Regions from separate parts of the Homo sapiens genome. Here regions 2, 3 and 4 are each linked to region 1. Evidence: fine-mapped expression QTL. A gene starts in region 1. Each other region holds a variant in brackets. All regions are shown on one strand. Distances are between the middles of the regions. Region 1 holds the start of GSTO1 (glutathione S-transferase omega 1). Region 2 overlaps NEURL1 (neuralized E3 ubiquitin protein ligase 1). Region 3 overlaps CFAP43 (cilia and flagella associated protein 43). Region 4 overlaps COL17A1 (collagen type XVII alpha 1 chain).

What was found. PIP is the estimated chance that this variant, and not a neighbour inherited with it, causes the effect.
Region 2: its variant is the best candidate, but not a certain one, in a credible set for the expression of GSTO1 in tibial artery (GTEx, PIP 0.75).
Region 3: its variant is the best candidate, but not a certain one, in a credible set for the expression of GSTO1 in tibial artery (GTEx, PIP 0.55).
Region 4: its variant is the best candidate, but not a certain one, in a credible set for the expression of GSTO1 in tibial nerve (GTEx, PIP 0.57).

The regions. Positions count from the first base shown.
Region 1 is chr10:104,253,080-104,257,242 of GRCh38, forward strand. It overlaps GSTO1 (glutathione S-transferase omega 1), which reads left to right and starts at 1,813. Exons shown (of 6, transcript NM_004832.3): 1 at 1,813-1,883; 2 at 2,084-2,192. The coding sequence starts at 1,850. All of the region lies in intron 1 of LOC124902497 (a long non-coding RNA gene), which reads right to left. RefSeq lists enhancers at 981-1,495, 1,830-1,889 and silencers at 1,960-2,219, 2,710-2,759.
Region 2 is chr10:103,585,514-103,589,676 of GRCh38, forward strand. It overlaps NEURL1 (neuralized E3 ubiquitin protein ligase 1), which reads left to right. Exons shown (of 6, transcript NM_004210.5): 5 at 4,001-4,147. Among named protein-coding and RNA genes, the nearest start is that of NEURL1-AS1, 70 kb to the left of the region's middle. The variant C/G (reference allele first, on the strand shown) is at 1,645.
Region 3 is chr10:104,144,178-104,148,340 of GRCh38, forward strand. CFAP43 (cilia and flagella associated protein 43) reads right to left here. Exons shown (of 38, transcript NM_025145.7): 29 at 3,714-3,821; 30 at 2,086-2,172; 31 at 1,299-1,387. Among named protein-coding and RNA genes, the nearest start is that of SFR1, 24 kb to the left of the region's middle. RefSeq lists an enhancer at 2,614-3,145. The variant A/T (reference allele first, on the strand shown) is at 2,306.
Region 4 is chr10:104,066,567-104,070,729 of GRCh38, forward strand. COL17A1 (collagen type XVII alpha 1 chain) reads right to left here. Exons shown (of 56, transcript NM_000494.4): 9 at 3,860-4,003. Among named protein-coding and RNA genes, the nearest start is that of COL17A1, 17 kb to the right of the region's middle. RefSeq lists enhancers at 372-1,027, 1,028-1,682. The variant C/CTGTT (reference allele first, on the strand shown) is at 1,725.

The DNA of each region.
Region 1 (4,163 bases):
GGCTTCCTGCCTTAAGGGTACCACTTTGCTTCTGGGGCAGAAAGCAGGGGCTTTTAAAGGGGGCAGTTGGTATGAACTGCATGCTGGGGAGGGAGCGAGTGGGTGGGGGTTCGCATGACTCACTTTGGTGCTTTATCTGCTGGGTTGTGCCATCATGGGCAGAAGTCATTTGTAAAGTGGCCTTGTCTCAGGCATACTTTTGGATGTAAATGGACTGTTATCTCTGGAGGCAGTCTCCTGGGGGGTGAGAGTCCTGCTCTGGAGCTTTTAAGTAAACACCCAGTTAGATAAGCTTGCCCTGTAGGGAGTGTCAGGTGAAGGGAAGGTAAAAGATGATAATTGCATTTCTAAAGAGCTAAGTAGGAAGTGGGGAACAGGGAGAAAGGAGGAAACAGAGAAGATGGGAGAAATAAATAATGTAAAAAATAACTCATCCTCTATCTCTTAGAAAAATGGGAGTACTGTTATATTACCAGGGCTCCAAAACACAAATGTTTAATAAGTGGGAGAGTTTTGAAAGCAGCACCATTATTCTGAGGTTGATAATATCCAGGTTTGTGCTGTCTCCTATGGGTTAAAATGAAAAGGATGTATCCTACAGGTGACGGTAGGGACAGAGGCCCTCCCAGTAGTCACGTTAAGCTAGTACTGACAGAAAAAGGAAAAGCCTGTCCAGGTGGCTGGGCAACCCTGCAGCGAGGCATAGATGAGCTTGTAAATCAAAGGAAATGACCAAGGTGAGTCTCAATCCTTTTAGAGGTTTATTTTGCCAAGGTTGAGGACACATCTGAGAAAAAGGAACACAAAATCACAGGAACATCTGTGATCTGTGCTCTTTCCAAAGAGGGCTTGAGGACTTCAATATTTAAAGGGAAAGAGCAGGCAGTAGGGGAAAGTGGAAAGTAAAAAGGGAAGGTAGATAAAAGGGGAGAGTAGTTGCATTCTTTGGGGCCTTTGATCAGCATTCACTGAATGCGCATGTTACATTCGTGAAAGGAGGTCGTAGAGGAATAGTCAGTTATGCATTCGTCTAGTGCTTGGTGAATCTGCATTTTTACAAGATTAAATATAGGGTAGAGGAAGCGGTCAAATTGCATTTTTCTCCAGCGAGAGGAAGGATGACTCCTAGACCTGTCTTTGTCCCATACTTGGGAAGATAAGCTGTTAGTTTACATTGCCAAGATGAAATTCAACTGATCTGTTTTAGAGTAAAGATCTTGCGGGCCAACAAGGAATTTCCTTGGGGAGGTGTGTGGCCTTTGATCTTTGTAGCTATTTAGCAACAAAATGGGAGGCAGTGTTGCCTGACTCAGTTTCCAAGCTTGACTCTTCCCTTTGGCATAGTGAGTTTGGAGTCAAGAGATTTTTATTTTCCCTTCACAAGCTGAACAGGAGCCTTTGGAGAGAACGCTCTGGACCGGTGAGTGAGCCATGAGGTCGGGCCACAGGCTCTGAAGTCGTGAAGCCTTGGGACGGAGCGGGTGGTGCTTCGAGGTCAGTGTCACGGGAGGGAGGTCAGGGTCAGGGTCAGACGTGGAGCCCCGTGGAGTGCGGAGTGGTGACCCCTTCGTTCGGGGGCGGAGGGATGACTGAGCATTTATAACTTTTGTGTATCTCCCCGTGGGTGCAGCCCTTGGCCAGCGAGATGCTTTGACACAGCCCCTTAAGATGTTTTAAGGGCTATCCCATAAAGCCGGGAAGGCACAACGGGTGGAGCTGGCGGCCGCCGGGGGCAGGCACTTTTGAGCTAAGGAGGAAGCGGGGGAGGGAAGGAGGGCGGGAAGGACGCGCCACCTACTTCCTGAATCCCCTGCAAACCCCAGAGGAGCTCGGCCTGCGCTGCGCCACGATGTCCGGGGAGTCAGCCAGGAGCTTGGGGAAGGGTGAGGCCTGCCCGCCGCGAAGAGGGGGTGATCTCGGCGACCCCCGGCGGCATGTTCGAGGCTGCTCCGGGAGCCCAGCCGCCCGGGAGCGCCCCACCGGCGGGGAACGGGTCGGAGCTGCAGTGGGACGCGGGGGCGGTGGGATACGGGGGGTCTCGACACCTCTCTGGGCCGTAATCGCCTTCGCTTCTCCCCGGCAGGAAGCGCGCCCCCGGGGCCGGTCCCGGAGGGCTCGATCCGCATCTACAGCATGAGGTTCTGCCCGTTTGCTGAGAGGACGCGTCTAGTCCTGAAGGCCAAGGGAATCAGGTGGGCACCCAGGCGGGGGACGCTCCCCGAGCCGTCCGGGAGCCTGCTGCAGGCGGCGGGGTGGGGTGGGGTCTCAGCCCCCTTCTACCCCCCTCCCACCAGCGTCCTTTACTGCACATTAAACTATTCTCGGCCCTTTGGAAAATAGCAAGTTATAGGCCATTCCCCTAGGAAAAATAGGCCACAGATTCCAACGGTCTAGGACACCTCATTTAGATTAACCAACCATTTAATGGATTAGAAAAGCTGAGGCTCCAGTGATGTTAGTGATTTGCCCGGTAATAACCGGCAGCAGCTCTTTTAGCTTTGGTAGGTCACGAATTCCTGGTCCAGAGTCCTTTCGCTTTCGCCCTATTGTGATTTCCCGTTCTTATTCCAGCTTAACTGTTAGTTGTTATTCTGAATGTATTGTTCCCTCCTAGAATAGTAATTTACCCCAGTACAGCAGAGTTTAGACCCTGACCCTCCTAGGGTAGTGCTGAGTTTACTGCACATATTCCTGTGGATTGGGCTGTTGGTTGAGTCAAATAGAGGGAAGTGTCTGTCTAGCTCATCCTTCTGCAGAGCCTGTTTTGAAACTAGCATAGTTTTTGACTTACGGGCTATCCACAGGATATGTGCAACAGTCACTTGACTTTTCTCTGACACCAAGTATCCATTGGAACCACTTCCCTTCCCATGACCTTTGGATGTCTGTTGATTAGACATTTATTAGATACCTTTGGTGTGGAAGGTTCTGTGGAAGTTTAAAACAAACCCCCTATTCTTAAGGAATTTTCTGTCTGTGTGCTTAGTGTTTGTGAACTAATTTTAGTCTTCTAAGGGGATAATCTTTAGGGGTAGGCAATTATTTTCCCTAAAAGAAAGGTAAAATGCATTTAAAAAATACATTTGAAGGGGATTTGTCATTACTTCACTAAGAAATGCATCTCATTTGGATGAGATTATGATTCTGAACACATAGAGTACTTACTATTTCATAATGTTTCTCAAAAACACTGTCATATTTGCTGTGATAGAACTCTTTTATTGTACTAAGAGAAATCTAATGTAACCAAAATTGAAAAAAGACATTTTTTGGTACTCATTTATTTGAAAAGTCCAGGAGCATGACACAGCTGGATTCAGAGGCACAAAGTCCTGGGTTATGTGCTTCACCCTGGACCTTTAGTTTGAAAACAACCCTACCTTATTTACTGGGGCAGTTTTCCAAAGGAACATTGAAACTATCTTCCCCTAATAGTGTGGGGTAGAGGGGAGGAAGAGAGTGGTTAACAGCTTCCAGACAGTGCAAACAACAAAGGTCTACTACATTAATAGACCAGTTTTAAGCTTGAGCCCGAGGAGGCTTTTACTGGGAAAGTACTAGATTTTAACCACATGATATGACTTAACAAAGCATGGTTTTCTCTAAAAGATGCATCTTCCAACTTGCTGTGGCAGGTGTGTAGACTTGTTGGCTCACAATGCCAGCTTACCAAAATTCATGTGTGTTCTGACATACTTTTTTTTTTTTAAATAACAAAAGCCCAGGATCTTTTTGTTTTCATAGTAACAAAAGTTTTTGTTTTATAGTTCAAAAATGTTGATAATTCTTTGGCAAGGAGCCAAATAATTTTTTTTTTTTTTGCAATGGCTGGTACTTAAGTGTCCAGTATTGTCAGCACATGAACCTTTTAAATTACATGCACACCTGTGCTCATGTTCAAATTGGATGTTCCTTTGTTTACATGGGGGATTATGTATTTAAATCCTCAAATGAAATGCTGTTCTAGCTACAGCTGTGGATGGGAAAATAGAAAACAAAAGGTATTGGTGTCTATTTTTTTTTTAGTAATCTGTTCTATTGAACATTTATTCAGCCTTGACAATCATATGGACCTAGCTCCTTTCTCTTAGTTCCTCTACAGTCTCAGGCAACATACAAGATAGACCTAAATACAATCTGACTATAGCCTGGACTTCACCTGT
Region 2 (4,163 bases), 670 kb before region 1:
AGCACACAACCCACTGACCACTCAAAAATGAGAGGAAAAGGCCAGGTGCGGTGGCTCACGCCTGTAATCTCAGCATTTTGGGAGGCCGAGGCGGGCGAATCATGAGGTCAGGAGATCAAGACCATCCTGGCTAACACGGTGAAACCCCGTCTCTACTAAAAATACAAACAATTAGCGGGGCATGGTGGTGGGCGCCTGTAGTCCCAGCTACTCGGGAGGCTGAGGCAGGAGAATGGCTGAGCCCAGGAGGCGGAGCTTGCAGTGAGCCAAGATCGTGCCACTGCACTCCAGCCTGGGCGACAGAGTGAGACTCCGTCTCAAAAAAAAAAAAAAAAAAAGGTTTCCCCCAGCAGTTAACTTTTTGAGTCTCGGTTACCATTTCTCCAAAATGGAAATAAAGGTCCTCACCTTTAAGGAAGTTTGTGAGTCCAAATGAGAAAAAAAGGTTGGAATGTCAGTAGTCAGGTGGTGCAGGGTGGTGTCTGGTTGGGGGACTCGGGGGAATCCCTGAGCAGGCAGCCTTGGGGGAAGTGGGGCTGCAGAGTTCTGGGCCTGCCTTTTCTCGGGGGCACAGGGTTTGAAAGGACTGGGGGGATGTGCATTGAGTTAAGAAAAGAAGGGAGGAAGATTCTTTATTGGAAGACTTCTCAGAGCCTTTAATATGCACTTTGATTAAGGAGACGGTGATGGTGGTTTTGGTGTAGAGTTTTTCCATACTAATTTGACCGGAAATCTTTTCACAAAGTGTCTCCTGGTACCTTTGTACCCCAGAGTGAGCAGGTATTCATGCTTTCCAAGTGCCGGTCTTTGAACCAGCTCTGTGAGACTGAGCTGGTTTCGTTAGATTTACCTGGAGGACCTATTAAAGTGCAGATTCTTGGACCCCCCCTCCAGAGATTTTAATTCGGTAGACCTTGGACAGGTTCTGGACATCTGAATTGTTTTTCTTTAGTAAGTATGCTTACCCAAGTTTGGAGACCCCTGGGCCTCACAGCCCCTAGCCTAGACCTCAGCCCAGGAGGCTTGATAGATAAGATAATGTGTGTAGATGAGTGAGCATGAGGTAGTTACTCTATGAGATTGGCGTACTGTGTATAGGCACATGTGAGTAACTGAATACACATATGTTAATGCATGTAATGCTGTTGGCTTGTGAGAGCATGAGAAATCATATAAAAAACATTGGGGACTTCCACCTCTGCAAAGAGACCAAATGAAGATGGAGTGAAACATAAATAAAAAGGAAATGAAAAGCCTGGGTGCGGTGGCTCACATCTGTAATCCCAGCACTTAGAGAGGCCGAGGCAGATGTATTGCTTGAGGCCAGCAGTTCAAGACCAGCCTGGCCAATGTGGCAAATCCCCATTTCTACTAAAATACAAAAAAATTTAGCTGGGTGTGGTGGTGCACGCCTGTAAGCCCAGCTACTCGGGAGGTTGAGGCAGGAGAATCACTTGAACCTGGGAGGCAGAGGCTGCAGTGACCTGAGATAGTGGCACTGCATTCCAGCTTGGGCAACAGTGAGATTCCATCTCAAGAAAAGAAAGAGAGAGAGAGAAAGAAAGAGAAAGAGAAAAATCAAGCAAGCAGGCAAGATGAATCAGGCTTGGGTGAGAATTCAAGATGGAATAAAAAGAAATTAGG[C/G]TGGGATGCAAAAAAATAAAAAATAAAAAATAGTCAAGCTGATTTCATTGACCAGGATATACTACTCCTCAGGGCAAGGAAATTACATAAGAGTAAGGTACTTTCTTCCCTCAGCACCATCTAATAATAGCTAAGCAGCTTTCCAGTAAGGCTTCTGTTGCCCAAAGAGGTTTACTAGACTGGAGCAAAGGGGAGGCTTAAAAAAATCCAGATTTCTCTCTCCCAAGAGGAGGATAGGCCAAGGTGGGTGTTGAAGAAGAACCACCCAGAATTCAATATACATTCAACAAAGTGCTCCTGATCTGTTTGGAAAATTGGGCATCACAACCAGCAAATTGGTGTTTGAAGATCCTGACTGACTTCAAAAGAATAACTAACCAGTGGCAATGTATGAAGGGTCATTATTAACCTTATAGAGGAATGCTTGGCTTTGTGGCTAGCCTAAGTATACTAAAAATAGAAGGTTATTTCCTTCACTCATGTGTATCACAAAACATACAGCCAGTTCCATACTTATTGGTGAAACATCAGAAATATTCTCATGAAAGTCAGGAATATAATAGAGATGGCTTACAGATGTTGTTCTGAAAATTCTGGCCAATGCAACAAGGCAAGAAAAGTAAATAGGAGTTGTGAATTCCTGAAAGAAGGAGATGATAATTAACTTGGAAAAATATTAACACAGTAAGAGAAACCCTGTGGGCATCTATTGAATATTCTTAGAAATAATAACACAACTAAATGAATTAGAATAACTACAGATAAAAAAGATCTCATTGGGCACTTAGGTGTGTGCAGGGCATTATGTTAGGATTTGTAGGAGAGTCACAGGTGAATACTATTTCCTGTTCTAAGAAAGCTCATGGGCTGGGCGCGGCGGCTCACACCTGTAATCTCAGCACTTTGGGAGGCTGAGGCGGGTGGATCACAAGGTCAGGAGATCGAGACCACCCTGGTTAACATGATGAAACCCCGTTTCTACTAAAAATACAAAAAAAATTAGCTGGGCCTGGTGGCAGGCGCCTGTAGTCCCAGCTACTCAGGAGGCTGAGGTAGGAGAATGGTGTGAACCCGGGAGGTGGAGCTTGCAGTGAGCTGAGATTGCGCCACTGCACTCCAGCCTGGGCGACAGAGCAAGACTCCGTCTCAAAAAAAAAAAAAAAAGAAAGCTCATGGTTTCACTGGAGAAACAAAACTGGAGTCCTGGGCACAGAACAAATATTACCCCAGCCTTTGTGGTTGTGTAGTTGTATGTCTGTAGTGCATGTGTGTGTGTACTTGAGGGAGTAATGTGGTCTGGGGGTAGTCAGGGCGGCCCAGAGGAAGGAGTTTGAGGACAGCTGTCAGAGGCTCCCTGGACAGCCAGCTCTTTGAAGTCAGGGGCTGTCTCTAGCTTTCTGTCTGCACGGGGCCTGATGCCTGGTAGGTCCTTGGTAAGGATTTGTTGAAGGGAGGAGAGAAGGAAGGAGGGAAAGAGGGAGGCGAGGATTGTTAAAAAGGAGAGGAAGGCCGGGCGCAGCGGCTCACCCCAGCAATCCCAGCACTTTGGGAGCCGAGGCTGGCAGATCACGAGGTGAGGAGATGGAGACCATCTTGGCCAACATGGTGAAACCCCGTCTCTATTAAAAATATTAAAAAATTAGCTGGGTGTGGTGGCATGTGCCTATGATCCCAACTACTCAGGAGGCTGAGGCAGGAGAATCTCTTGAACCTGGGATGTGGAGATTGTAGTGAGCCGAGGTCGTGCCACTGCACTCCAGCCTGGCGACAGCGAGACTCCGTCTGAAAAAAAAAAAAAAAAAAAGGAGAGGAAGTGAGTGACGGAAGGAGGAAGGAGGGGAGGAGAGAATCTATGATCAGAACAAGGTGGGAAAAAGTGAAGGCACTGCAGAGGTGCCATGCAGAAAAGGTGGGTGATATCTGGGGACAGTGGTGAAGAGCTCAGGGCTCCGAACAGGAGGGTGAGGTTGCGGGGCAGGGGAGATGGTAATATACATGCTCCGGCCCAGGAAGCTTTGCAGAAAGCATACATGGGGAGGGGCGGAGGTAGGTGCCAGGCAGGGGCCTAGTTTGGAGCTGCTGTTTTAACAAGAAGAAAGCAGGATATGACCCTCCAGTTCATAGGTGAGAACAGAGGCCAGGCTGGGTGCTGTCTGGGGTCAAAGTCTTTAGCTGATTAGCTATACTCCACGGCGGTAATATCAAATGATCCCCGCGCCAGCCTGCAAAATCCCGCTCTTGGCCCTGTGGCTGGGCTGTGTGGTCAGGCCTGGGAACCCACTGTGAGGGACAGAGCTTTCTCCAGTTTGGCCTGGGCAGGCAGCTAGTGTGTCCTTCCCTCCCTCCCCTTTCACAGGCTCCACTATCCTGGCCGAGCGGGGTATCCCATCACTCCCCTGCTCCCCTGCCTCCACGCCAACCTCGCCCAGTGCCCTGGGCAGCCGCCTGTCTGACCCCTTGCTCAGCACGTGCAGCTCTGGCCCTCTGGGTAGCTCTGCTGGTGGTAAGTAGGCTGGCTC
Region 3 (4,163 bases), 110 kb before region 1:
AGCCTGGGAGAGAAGCTCATGGCCCAAGGCTATCAGTCTGACAGGTGTTGAAGTTAGGATTTAAAGTTGATTCTGTTTGACAAGAAAGCTTGTGCTTTTCCCACTGCTGCGGGAGGTCTCACTTCTTTTTCCACAAGGAGAAGGTATGTAATTGGGCTAATTATCACTCACTCTTTTAAAAATAGGAAAACCGCCGGGCGAGATGGCTCACACCTATAATCCCAACACTTTGGGAGGTTGAGATGGGTGGATCACGAGGTCAGGAGATCGAGATCATCCTGCTCAACATGGTGAAACTCCGTCTCTACTAAAAATACAAAAATTAGCTGGGCGTGGTGGCATGTGCCTGTAGTCCCAGCTACTTGGCAGGCTGAGGCAGGAGAAACGCTTGAACCCGGGAGGCGGAGGTTGCAGTGAGCAGAGATCGTGCCACTGCACTCCAGCCTGGGTGACAGACAGAGACTCCGTCTCAAAAAAAAAGGAAAACCAAAACAAGAGGCATGTTCTAGGTTAAATTCCCTAGGTTGCCTATAACCTGTCAGAGTTTGTATCTCAAACACAAACTAGCTGACTACATCTTTGTGACAAACTCCTTGATTTCTAGATTACATTTGATTGAAAACTGGAAATCTGCATTTATAATGGTGGAAATCAGTGATACTTTCTTAGAACTCTTTTCAAATGGTTATTTTCTACCATTTATACTGGCATCTTTCAAACTTTAGGCACAAGCACATGAGATACTCTGAGGAAAAGCAATTTGTGGTCAAATAAGTTTGGAAAACGCTGCTTACTCTGTTTCTTACACTTGGAGATCCAAAGGCCAATAATACATTCTGCAGTAAAAGAAAAGCTGCTTAACTTCCTTTTTTTAACCCAGTATTTTCCCCAAACTTAGTTAGTCCTGGAAGCCTATTACAAGTAGTTCCGATTTATACATCAGGGAACTTGTGTTTGTTTGAACGCACTTTAGAAAAAACTGTTTTTAAATCTGTGTGCCATCTATGATGTAAGAGGAACTTCCTTAATGTACAAAGCAGAATCTACAATAGTACCGTGCTTACACAGATCCTTAACTATTTTTAAATAATGAAAATAAATCATTATTCTCTACCTTAAGATATAGACATAATCTCAAAAAATACTGAATTAGGATCAAAACCCTTAAACATCTCCACCTAAAAGATATTACACTGAATAATTCCATTTAATTGGGAGAAAAAAGCTGAAATCTAGTAACACTCCTCTTTATTTGCAAACTTTTTTCTCAGAAACACAATAGTGAAGGAGAAACAAACCTTGGTCGGCGTTTAAAAAGTTTGTAGAGTATATCCACTTGATGACCAGGAATTTCAGAAAATTCCTTTTTAAAGCTGCGATCCATAACCTAAGGACAAACATGACATTTGAGGACTGCAACTTGGTTTGGAAACCTTTTATTTGTTGACAATACTCTTCAAAATACAGGTGGTAGCACTTTGGTTTTAAAAATGCATGAAACCTTGATTTACAAAGTTGTTAGACATTAACCATTCTCTGTGCAATGATGTCTCAAAGATTTGTTTTGATAAGAAGCATCTAAGTGTATTAAAAATATTATTTCATATAACAGGTCTTAGAAATCATCCAGAAGTTTCCCAAAGAAGTGTCCCAAAATATATTTACCCAAAAAACATGAATGTTACTCTATTCTTTTCTTTTCTATTCCATTCTGTTCCATCTGTCTTCTTTATGCTATTCTATCCTATTCTTTTCCATTATAAAACTGCTGGTCATAACCTACTAAATTGATTTCATGGCCAAGTAATGGGGTCTGCAACCTAAAGTTTGAAAAGCCTTAAAGGCTAGATGATTTCCCTGTATTTTGTATAACAGAAAGCTTAAACCAGAGAAGCTTATAAAAATTCATTTTACACATGGATTTTCAAAAATATACAATGGCATAGAATGAAGTTCACCCATAGCTGAGAATTAAGTGGGAGAAAAATCTGTGAGAAAATTATATTATATCCCCTTTAACCTTCCTCCAATCCAGGCAGCAACAACTCTACTGCATTGTTGAGTGGGTAAGACAACAACTCTCACTTTGTCTTCTGCCAGTAAGTTGTCATAGTGCTCCTTGCACACATCCAGGTCTTCTCTAGATTTCCGAACAGCTTCTGAAGTCTGGCTCTATAACAGCATCAGGAATAGTTGATTGAAACTGGAGACTTTCCAGCATAAACAAAAATATTGGGGATACTAAAAAGAGCAAGGAATTTCCTAGTACAAGAGAAATATGTCTGTGAAGTATTTATTCATGAAG[A/T]TAAGATTTATAGAAGAAAATACACCAATTGGGGACTTTGAAAGAACACCCAATCACCTGTTTCTAAGTACAGCCAACTCTGTGTATGAGTGTGTGAGTGTCTATGGAGCACACTGCATTCTTGGTAAGTCAGTGTGGAGGATGAAAGTGCACAGGCTTCGGAATCACATGGACCTGGGTTCTGAGAGACTGGATATACATGCAAACAAGGGCCAGACCATATGTAACAACAGAATTCTGACCCACAACCTCTACAATCATCAGCTGGGAAACTAAACCACAGCCTTTTTAAGGATTGGCCTCAAACTTTCAGGGCTTGATCATTACCACCAGCTTCTATAATTTTGTCCCCATTTCCAACCTAGGACCATCCAGAGAAAGCCAAATATGTTCCCTAAACCAGTAAAATGAGTTGTCCCGCTTCTAATTGGTTTGCCTCTAGCTTCCTCATGCCAACAACTTCCAATGATGTTGCATCTGAAGCCCTCTCTTCTTTGCACTATAAAGCTTTCCTACTCCTTTCCTGCCTTTGAGTCTGCCAAAAGTAACTGATGGTGGATGAGTCCCTTGCTGTGCCAAGCTCTGAATAAACAGCATCTGCTCATTTGCATTTGGATGTTCTTCACTTATTCCCACAGTTCCAGCTGCTGCTCTATTACACACTAGTGGCTGACTTAGGCATGCTACCCAGACTCTCTGAGATGGTATCCTCATCTGTGAAAGAAATCTAGTATGCTGCAGGGTTGCTATATGTAAAGTTGTATTTAGAAGAAGCTTTGCATATGCTGTTTAATAGGCTCTTAGAAAAAAGTTCATGTCATTTTTAAGTCACACATTCATAAATGCTCTTTACTAATACTACTAACAAAAGCTGACATTTGTAGAAACATTATGTGATAAACATTTTGTATTCATTGTCTTTTTAATGAACCATATCTATCCAAGCTCATATTTAGAGTTTTTCATAATACGGCAGTTTTTCATTCTATACGCAAGCCCATTGCTTACATCTTAGTAAATCTTAGCGTGTCCAGAGAGAAAAACATTCCCTAGGTAAGAGCTTGCAAATAGCTTAAAAGGTTATATGCCTTGTCCTAGGTCCCACAGCCAGTGCTTTCAACCATGAAGCTATATGGCCTCATTTTATAAACCATGTCATATGAAAGCTACACAGTTCTTTTGGCTAAATGATTGCAGATGCAGAATCACCTAACTTTATTAACAGATTGGAATGGTTACTTTCACCTGGCCCTGGAGCAAAGTTCCAGACAGGGAGCCAAGGGATGCACATGGTTATGTAGGAATGGTGCAAGGAAGGAAGGAAGGGTCTAGACACGTGAGCTCTTGCTAAATGAGGGGCATGTCTATCAGAAAATGCTTGTATTCAGATTTCAGACACTATTCTTACTTTCTCGTGCTGTTTCCTTGTAAGGTAGTTGTTCAGGAATTTTTCTCTAGAGCTTAATTCTTCATCCAACAATAAAGAAAATGCAAGGTTACTTATTTTCAGTTCCTCCTGTAGAAATATTTAAGAAAAAGGTTGGTGGAATTACTTCCACCTGAGACAATATTTTCTATAGACTTGGCACTAATCAAGCAAGTTTATGACATACACATAAACTTTAAAATGTAAGAGAAACATTTTAAAGAAAAAGGGAATACAGCTTATTGAAATAACTTCAGTTATTTTACCTTTTTCATAATTTCATTGTAAGGTAAATCACATATACAAAAAATACATAACATGAATATATAATTTAATGGGTTATTATAAAGGCAAACACTCTTGTTAGCACCACTTATCGCAAGAAACAGAACTTTACGACTGCAGTTGCTTCTTCCAGGAGTCCTCATCAAA
Region 4 (4,163 bases), 190 kb before region 1:
CTTCAAGAGGAAAAAAAAGAGCATAGTAAAAAGCCCTCACCCAATAAAAAGCTCTGGAATCCCATAACACGCTTGCCTCCACTTTACATCTCACAAAGTAGAGGACAGGGAGATCAGGGAGTAACAGGAAGGCTGGAGGAAGAGGAATCTGGGGATCATAAAGAAGCTAAACCCAATGCTCCCGTAAATCCTTATCCAAACTTGAGGAGAGAATTAGAACAATGTAAGAAGGACATTGAGAATTTCCCTATTCCTTCTAAACAGCAGATGTCTAATATGTACCCTCTTAGAGAAGTCCCTATGGGACAGGGAGAAGTTGGATATGTAAGTGTGCCTCTAACAAGTACTAAGGTTAGGAATTTTAAATAGGAAATAAGGCCGCTCTTGGAAAATCTCCTCGGTGTAGCAAAGCAGCTAGATCAATTTTTAGGACCCAATTTTTGTACTTGGGCTAAGATGATGTCAATCATGACTATTCTGTTTATTGAGGAAGAGAGGGGAATAATTAAAAGGGCAGCCATGACCATTTGGGAAAGACAGCATCCTCTCGGGCAAGGAGTCCCGCCAGCTGAGCAGAAATTCCTAAATGCAAATCCCAGATGGAATAACAATAACCCCAAAGATCGGGCCCAAATGCAGGACCTAAGGGAACGAATAATTAAAGGGATTAAAGAGTCCACTTCAAGGACACAGAATGTCTCAAAAGCATTCGAGCTTCAACAAGTAAAAGAGGAGACTCCCTCTGCATTTCTGCAGAGGCTCAGGAATAAAAAAAAAAAAAAAAAAAAAAAATCAGGATTACATCCAGAGGACCTAGTAGGGCAAGGCCTTTTAAAGGTTAATTTTATGACTAAAAGCTGGCCTGATATTACTAAGAAACTGCAAAAAAGTTGATGGATGGAATAAAAAGCCAATTAAGGAATTAGAAGGTTTTTGCGAAAAGTAAGAAACGAATTGGAAAAAGAGAAAGAGAGAAAGCCAAAGCTGTCCATCTTGCAGACGGACAGAGGGGAGCCACGGCATGGCTCACGCTGGTGCTCAGAGAGAGAAAGAGTTAAGCTGCTGACCCTGAAGGCAAGGGAGCCGGCTGTGCAGCTGCAGGTGTGGGGGCGGCAGGAGCTGCAGAGCCGAAGCAAACAGCCGAGATAAAGGTGGACAGTGTGAGAGAGCTAATGTAAGTAAGCTGTTAACATGGCGAGTGCGCTGGCGCCCAGAGAAAGAAGAAGAAACTGAGTGTAAGGGAAAGAGAAAACAGGGATGACAGAGACAGAGAGATTAAAAAAAAAGAAAAAAGAAAATAAGCGAAAGAGAAAGAGACGGGAAAAGACAGAGATCAAAGACACAGAAGGTGAAACTGGGGAGAGACATAATGTAAAAGGAAAAAAGAGTACAAGAGGAAGAGAGAGAGACAGGGAAAGAGAGAGAGGCCATGTAAGACGGGAGATGGGGAGACAAAGGTGCAGGTGGGCAGTGGCTGCCATGGCCCTGCTGGCGGAGGGGAGTCTGAAGTTGATCTTCGGCAGGGCCCTGGTAGTGAGCACCCCACATCAGGTCAGGAATATATTAAATCAAAGAGTTGGGAGATGGTAAACTAATTCCCAGATTTTAAAATATGAAGCCATATTATTACAAAAAGATAATTTAGTCTTGACAACATGTATTTTCTTGAATCCAGCCAGCTTCTTATGAAAAGGAGAGGAGAATAAAGAGGCATCAAATCATAA[C/CTGTT]TGGATATCATAGAATGTCAAACTAAAGTTAAACCAGACCTTAATATCAAACTAAAGTTAAACCACCCCATTACATAATGGGATGAGACTGTTTGTAAATGGGTCATCCCAAGTAATAAATGGTAAAAAACACAATGGCTATGCTGTCATTAATGGAAACAAATAATCCTTATGTGAAAAAGGTAGATTATCCAATAATTGGTCAGCCCAAACCTGTAAATTACATGCTCTTAACCAGGCCCTCAAGCTTCTAGAAGGCCAAGAAGGCACTGTATATACTAATTCCAAATATGCCTGTGGAATAGTACACACCTTTAAAAAGATCTGGACAGAGCGGGGCCTAATAAATAGCAGGGAGAAAGAATTTGTACATGGGGAACTGATCAAACAAGTTTTAAAAAGCCTCTTGCTTCTAGCAGAGATAGCCATAGGCAAAACTATAGAAGCTGTGGGGAACAGGCTTGCAGATAAAGCTGCTAAGCAAGCTTCCCTGGAGGAAGAAGTTAGATTGTTTAGCCTAATCCCACAGATCCCTAAGGTGATATTAAAACCCAAATTTTCTAAAAAGGAGGAGGAAGAGCTGGGCAAGATAGGGGCCACTCAAACTGAGGATGGGAGGTGGGTGCTCCCTGATGGGAGAGAAATGATAAGCAAACCCATAATGAGAAAACTGATGTCCATACTGCATAAAGGAATTCACTGGGGTCCCCAGGATATGTGTGATGCAATACTAAAAAATTATGGGTGTATAGGGATCTATACCCTTGCTAAACAAGTGTGTGGGTGTTGTGTAACCTGCCAGAGAATAAACAAAAAAGTAGTTAGAAAACAGACTACCAGAGGAAGACCTCCTGGGTTAAGGCCATTTCAAAGCATTCAAGTAGATTTTACAGAAATGCCCAAAATAGGGAGACTAAAGTATCTACTGGTAATGGTAAACCACCTCTCCGGCTGGGTGGAGGAATTCCACCTCCCAACTGCCACCGCCAGGAATGTGGTAAAAATAATCTTAAAACAAATTATACCTAGATTTGTCTTGATAAAAAATATTAATTCGGACAATGGGTATCACTTTACCTCAAGGGTGCTAAGGGGAATTATGGAAAGTTTACACATTAAATGGGATTACTATACCCCTTGGCATCCCCCTTCCTCTGGAAAAGTAGAAAGAATAAGTCAAATTCTCAAAAAGCATATTACTAAACTAATCTTTACAACTAAAATGCCTCGAATGTCTCCCAGTAGCACTCCTTAGGATTAGAACAGCCCCAAGCAAAGACTTTGGACTGTCCCCTTACAAGTTATGATATGGACTCCCATATTTAGATAGGACTACTGATCTTCCTACTATGGAAACCAAAAACCAGTTTTTAAGAAATCATATACTGGCCATATCCTCCACCCTGTCATCCTTTAGCTTAAAAGGACTTCGAACTCAAACCCCGCCTCTTGAGTTCACAGTTCACCACTTCCAGCCTGGCATCTCGGTGCTAATTAAGACTTGAAAAGAAGATAAGCCCCACCCAAGCTGCCAAGGTCCCTATCAAGTGGTCCTAACCACTGAAACGTGACAACGAACAGCTAAACGAGGGTGAACTCATTACACTCAAGGGACTGGTAAAAGAAACCCAAGAAGGAAGGGAAAAGGGCAAATGGGAAGTGTATAAATCACCTAAGGAACACTTAAAGCTAACTCTAAGGAAAACCTAGAAGAGAGCTATAAGCAAACCCCTTCATTAGGGGTGGATATGGTTAGGATTAATCCTAACACACAAAAGAAGACCTGAGTATTGGATAGGGCCCAGTACTAGGGGTGGAAAGTAGGGAATATCCAATCAATCTAATAATCAACATAACTAAAACCTCTACCCCCTAAACCATAAAATTCAATGCCTGCTGAGTCTTACATTGTGGGAATTTAGGAAACCAAAGGCAGCTGTCACAAGCAAACAAATATCTATGCCCTAAAACAGGTTGCTATTAGGGAAAGCCCTGTGCTAGCTGGAATGAGATTTGGTGGGCCCCAATTTCAAGTCTCACTTTCACTGTTCTCTGGGTCTCTGAGTCCACTCTTTGGGTTTGGATGGGTAAGTTTGTTTCTCACACTCCTCGGCAGCCTGGGCTGTCAGACTTACCCGACTGGGAGCTCGCTGTCACAATTTTGGTCTCCACAGTGCCTTTCTTGGGGATGGGGAGTGTGTTGGAGGAATTCCGGGTGGGGCTCACACTTGCCGATCGACTCCCCTTGAGCAAACGCTTAACATCATCCAATTCTGTCCCTGTGAAAGAATCCACAGACGTTTCTGTTAAGTCCAGAGTTCTTTCCTGAGTCCCTGTGCAACTGGGGGGAACATTTGTGGCATTCTGACTACTGGGGAGAATGGCATCTGCCTCACACATTGGAACTTTTTGCTTGGCTTTATAATATTCACATTTTAC